Regions from separate parts of the Homo sapiens genome. Here region 2 is linked to region 1. A link means that fine-mapping ties the variant in region 1 to the expression of a gene that starts in the linked region. Tissue or cell type: whole blood. Region 1 holds a variant in brackets; the other region holds the start of a gene. All regions are shown on one strand. Distances are from middle to middle.

What was found. PIP is the estimated chance that this variant, and not a neighbour inherited with it, causes the effect.
Region 2: LY9 starts here. The variant in region 1 is fine-mapped to the expression of LY9 in whole blood (TOPMed, PIP above 0.99).

What each region holds. Positions count from the first base shown.
Region 1 is chr1:160,816,875-160,819,638 of GRCh38, reverse strand. It overlaps LY9 (lymphocyte antigen 9), which reads right to left. Exons shown (of 10, transcript NM_002348.4): 6 at 1,320-1,421; 7 at 265-318. Among named protein-coding and RNA genes, the nearest start is that of LY9, 22 kb to the right of the region's middle. The variant G/A (reference allele first, on the strand shown) is at 1,332.
Region 2 is chr1:160,794,662-160,797,274 of GRCh38, reverse strand. It overlaps LY9 (lymphocyte antigen 9), which reads right to left and starts at 1,101. Exons shown (of 10, transcript NM_002348.4): 1 at 964-1,101. The coding sequence starts at 1,087.

The DNA of each region.
Region 1 (2,764 bases):
TTTCTATTTTTAGTAGAGACAGGGTTTCACTTTGTTGGCCAGGCTGGTCTTGAACTCCTGGCCTCAAGTGATCTACCTGCCTCAGCCTCCCGAAGTGCTGGGATTACAGGTGTGAGCCACGGCACCTGGTCAGATTTTGCATTTCTAACAAGTTTCCTGGGTGATGCCCACACTGCTGGCCAGCAGACCACACTTTGAGCAGCAAGACTTTAGAACTTCCATTTGGACCAGATACCCCATAGCCTGTGTCATGGGTGATGTTACCTGGTGTATCCGCTGGGGCCTCAGCTTGGCTGGAACAGAAGGCTGGGACTGAACCTGAGAAACAAAGTTAGAGAAGGTTTATCAAGAGGGCTGTGAGGTGAGAGGTGTCTTTTATTCTGTGAGAGTCAAATGAGAAGGGGAGAGACTTCTGGGACATAGACAGGGAAAAGGCTTCAGGAAGGAGGATGAACCCTGATGAGAAGCCAGGCCTATGTGAAGGGGTGGCCAGAGTCTAGGGCTACTTTCTGCAGAGGTGGAGGCTCTGGAGCTTCCTGCCATCCCTCCAGAAGAGAGAGCTCCTCTGCCATAGCCACTGATCAGAGTAGTTTGCCTGCAATTCAGTAATTCTTCCAGGGACCCCATGTGTTCTACCCATTCTGCTCTTTTTGGCTACTACTTCATTTCCACTCCAATACTGGGATTCTAGAGGAGCTGCCAATCATAATAGTGTATCTTCTTGGCTATAGAAATTGGTCCAAGCAGCAGCCACATGACCTTAACTTGGGCCAATCAGAGCTATTTCTGACATTCTTTAAATTGGAGTTAGAGGGAAGCACATTTTCTTCCCTGTCTGGTGTCGGAGCTGTTAGTATGTGTGGGTCTGGAGCTGCCAGCTGTTGTGTTGTGGTACACTCCTCCCCTCGCTCCCACCCCTTCCCTCAGCGGGCTGCAGTAGGAAGAGTTAAGCTGACTCAAAATACACAGTAGAGATGAAAGGTGGAGAGCTCTGATGACTTTTGAGCCTCTGGTGACATTTCTCCATTATGCCAGCTCTATCCCTGCCTTCCCCACAGATTGATTATTTAAGTGAAAAAATAATAAATCACTCTCCCTGCTCCCACATGCCTTTTTTTTTCTGTCTAAGCCAGTTTGAACTGGGCTTCTATTATTTGTGAGTAAAGAGTCCCAACTGACACCCCTCCCCCATTGCTCTGAGAAGAAATAAGATGCTGGCAGGGAGGGGTAGCACGGGATTGTGTGAGGGCAGAGAAGCCTCCACAAGTCCCAGGGAAATGGCCTAGCACTGGCGGACAACATTGATCTCGGAAACTCACACCGTCCTTTTC[G/A]CTTCCAAATGCACCAGCTGAAGATCCCAACGCACAGAAGGCAAACCATCAGGAACAACCCAATCCAAAGCTTTGTGTTTCTCTCAGGTCCTTTGAGGAGGAAATGAGTGATGTTAATTCAAATAATGACAAGACACACTGGAGCAAACAATGCACAGAACATGATGGCCATCCTACCTGCCCCTTAAAATCCATGACGTTGTGGAAAGTCTTTCTTTTCATTCATTCTACAACCATTTTTCGAGCAAGCATTACTCTAGGCAAGAGGTTATAGCAGTACCTGAGGCAGACAGTCCCTGGGTAGAGAGGTTTACGGCTTGCCCAGTGTCACAGTGTTTCAAGTGTCTGACCTGAGGTTCGAGTGCAGATCCTACAGCGCCCTTAATCGCCACATTACACTGCCCCGCTGTAAATGATATGAGGGGAGTTCCAGATTCCTGTTAAGCTGGACTCTAGATCTGTCTGCCAGACACAATCTGACCCAACATTGTCAGATCCTGGGTAGACCGTACCTTTTTTCTGCTTCCTTCTACGGAAGAGCAGAAGATAGAGCTCAGGGTTCGAAACCAGCTTTTATGGTGTGACCTTGGATAAGTCCCTTATCTTTTCTGAGCCTCAGTTTCTTTATCCATATAAAGGGGAAAAACGAGAATATCTACTCTGTAGGATTGTTGCGAAGATTGTGCAAAAATGCCTGAAGGCCTAGAATAGTACTTAGCATTTATTAAGGGCCACTGGGGCTTCTTTTCTAGCTCCCACTCACGCAGCCTTTGTTCCTGTGTGGTCCACATCCCTTTCCATATCAGCTTCCTATTGGCTTTTCTCCACAAGCCTGTAACTCTGTGCTGTTCAATATGGTAGCCACAAGCTATGCATAAGCCCTTGAAGTGTGGCTAGTATTACTGAGACACCAAATTGCTTCTTTTATTTAGTTTTAGTTTAAATTTAAAAATGGCTACTCAATTCCTTCTTGAAAAACTGATAAATATGCTTGGAATAACTTGGGTGCATAAATCTATTTTTTCAACTGTAAATTTTACGAAGTCTGAATATAGATTAAACACTTTCAGTGAAAATTTAGCATCGGAATCGAGACGTGCTCTAAGTGTAAAATACATACTGGCTCTCAAAGACTTAGTACAAAATAAAATGTAGTGTCTAATGAATTTTTTTGTATTGAATACACGTTGAATAATGATATTTTGGATATATTCAGTTAAATAAAACATATTATTAAAATAACTTTATTTCTTCTTGCTTTTTCTAACGTGGCTATTAGAACATTAAAATCACATGCGTGACTCTCATATATCTGTGGAAGCATGCCACTCTAAAGGGCTCTCACCCACAGCCTCTTACTGCACTTCATAAAGAATCAGTCAGGATGCAAACTCTTGGAGGCCCCAAGGTCCTGTGACCTGAGTAAATAGAGA
Region 2 (2,613 bases), 22 kb after region 1:
TGCACCATCATCCCTGAAGCCCTGGAGAAAGCGGGAGCACAGAAGGACAGTAGCTGCCACAGTCCCAGGTGGCTGAGATCCTCTCTGGGGTACTGGATTGGCTCTATCTGCTGGACAGTGGGGTTCCGGGCCATGCAGCGGAGAGATGTTTCCCAGGAGTTGGGCCTTGATAGGGAGGAATAAGGTTGAGGAGAAAAGGATATCCAGATAAACGCCACCTTGCCCATGGTCACCTAACCGCGTCCAGGTCCCCAGTGAAACCTCAGTAATAAAGCCAGCATATATGATAACCAAGGCAGGATACATAGAAAGAAGCTCCAGAAGTTCTCTCCATCCCTAGGAAATTGCTAGGTGGCTTCTCATCAGGGGATTTTCCTGGATCCCTCTGTGGGTTTTATCCACACCATACAGGGAACAAACTCATTATATACTTGGCATTTCTTAGGAAAATGTGAGGGCAAGAGAAATGTAGTTTGAGCCCAGAGCTATTTGAGACCGGGGCTAGAATGTTACCCCCTTCATAGTGCACGAATATGCACACATGCAAAGTAATTTCTGGCAAGGAGATGAGTTTCCCGATTTTACCAACAAGAACTGGGCTCACGCCTGTAATCCCAGCACTTCAGGTGGCTGAGCTGGGCAGATCACGAGGTCAAGAGATCGAGACCACCGTGGCCAACATAGTGAAACCCTGCCCCTACTAAAAATACAAAGATTAGCTGGGTGTGTTGGCATGCACCTGTAATCCCAGCTACTCAAGAGGCTGAGGTAGGAGAATCGCTTGAACCCAGGAGGTGGAGGTTGCAGTGAGCCGAGATTGCGCCACTTCACTCCAGCCTGGCAACAGAGTGAGACTCCGTTAAAAAAAACAAAAAACAAAAAAAAGAATCTCCCAGGCAGGGAATGCAACTGGCCTCAGAAGAACCGCAGTAGCAAGAAGTGGTGGCCATAAAGTGGACTTACCCATGAGCAGGAAGAGGAGAGAGGTCTGTAGAACAGAAGAGAATATTTGCAGCTGACTCCTCTGTGGCTTACTGGAGAAAGGCCCAGGAGCCCAGTCATCTGTGTGACTCTTTGGTGCCACCATGATGATCTATTTTCAGAACTGAGACTGAAGGAGGATGCACTTACCACAGCTTCCGCACGTGTCACAGCTTCTGCATGTGTATATGAGTGTGTGTGTGCATGTGTATGTGTATGTGTGTGTGTCTCAGAGGGAGGGTTGTTTATACAAAACACCACAGACTCCTCCCATCTGCGCAGGCAGGTAGAGGTCCCAAGTCTATTCAGGGCCTCATTTGTGACTGATGTGGAGCATCACTTGCTTTGACATCAAGGGACTTGGGTTCTAAATTTGGCTCCTAAAGGTGACTGCTAAAGATCTGTACCTCCTGGCATTCATGCCTCTGTGTAATCACCTCTTCTTTAGTGTGGCCTGGATTTAGTGACTTGCTTCAAGTGAATAGAATGTGGCAGAGATGTGGGATGGGTCACTTCTGAGATTAGGTTACAAAAAAGCTGTGACTTCCATCTTGGGTTAGCATGTGTGTGCATATGCGCTCTCTCTTTCTCTTGCCCTCTCTCCCTCTCTGTCTTTCCCACTATCTCTGTCTCCCTACCTTACACTGAGGGGAGCCAGGTATTGTTTTGTGAGATACTTTAGGGAGAGGGTTCCAAAACAAAGAACAGAGGGAGGCCCCCAGCCAACAATCGGCGAGGAGCTGATTCCTCTGGCCAACTGTCCATGAGGACTGAGGCTAGCCAAGAATCACATGAGTGAGACTGGAAGTGGATCCTCCCCAGGAGGTCCTTGAAATGACTGCAGCCCTGGCTGACACCGTGATGTTAGTTGTGTGAGTACCTTAAGCCAGAGGCACCCAGCTAAGCCATGCCCAGATTCCTTATCAAGAGAAACTGTGAGATAATAAATGTTTGGTTTTTAAATTTTTTTTCAATTTTTTATTTTTCATCAAAAATGCTTATTGTTTTTAGCTGTGAAGTTTGGGGCAATTTGTTACACAGCAACAGATAACTAATACAGTGACCCAATACATTTTCTATTTTGCTCAAGGCAGTTTGTGCTAGCTTTCTGTCACATGCAATGAAGGACTTTTAATATGGACAAAGGCATCAGGGAGACTGCAATGGGGGTGGACATCGTATGTGACAGCGTAGAGGTGACTGAGTTGAAAAGGTAGGCTGGAGAATGGCATGATTCCCTATATCCTGACTTGGGAAACTGTCTTTTTCTCCTCCTTCTTCTTGTCAGTAGCGTAATAGCTGGCCATGCTATGGTTTGTGTTTCGGGCTTCAGGTCATTTGTTTACTTAGGCTGTAACATTAAGGGGACTTGGCAGGAAAACTTGAGGCTGGCAGAATGTGTAGTTTTAGCTAATATTCGATGAAAGCTTACAGAGTGCTAGTCCATCTTCTGACACTTTAACATATTCACTCATTTGATCTTACAATAGTTTTATGAGATATCTTTTATCATCCCCATTCTATAAATGAGAAAACTGAGGTGGAGAGGGGTTAAATAGCTTACTATAAGTTTTATAGTTAGTAAGGACTTGAACCCAGGAAGTCTGGGTTCAAAGGAAGAAGGGAGAGAGA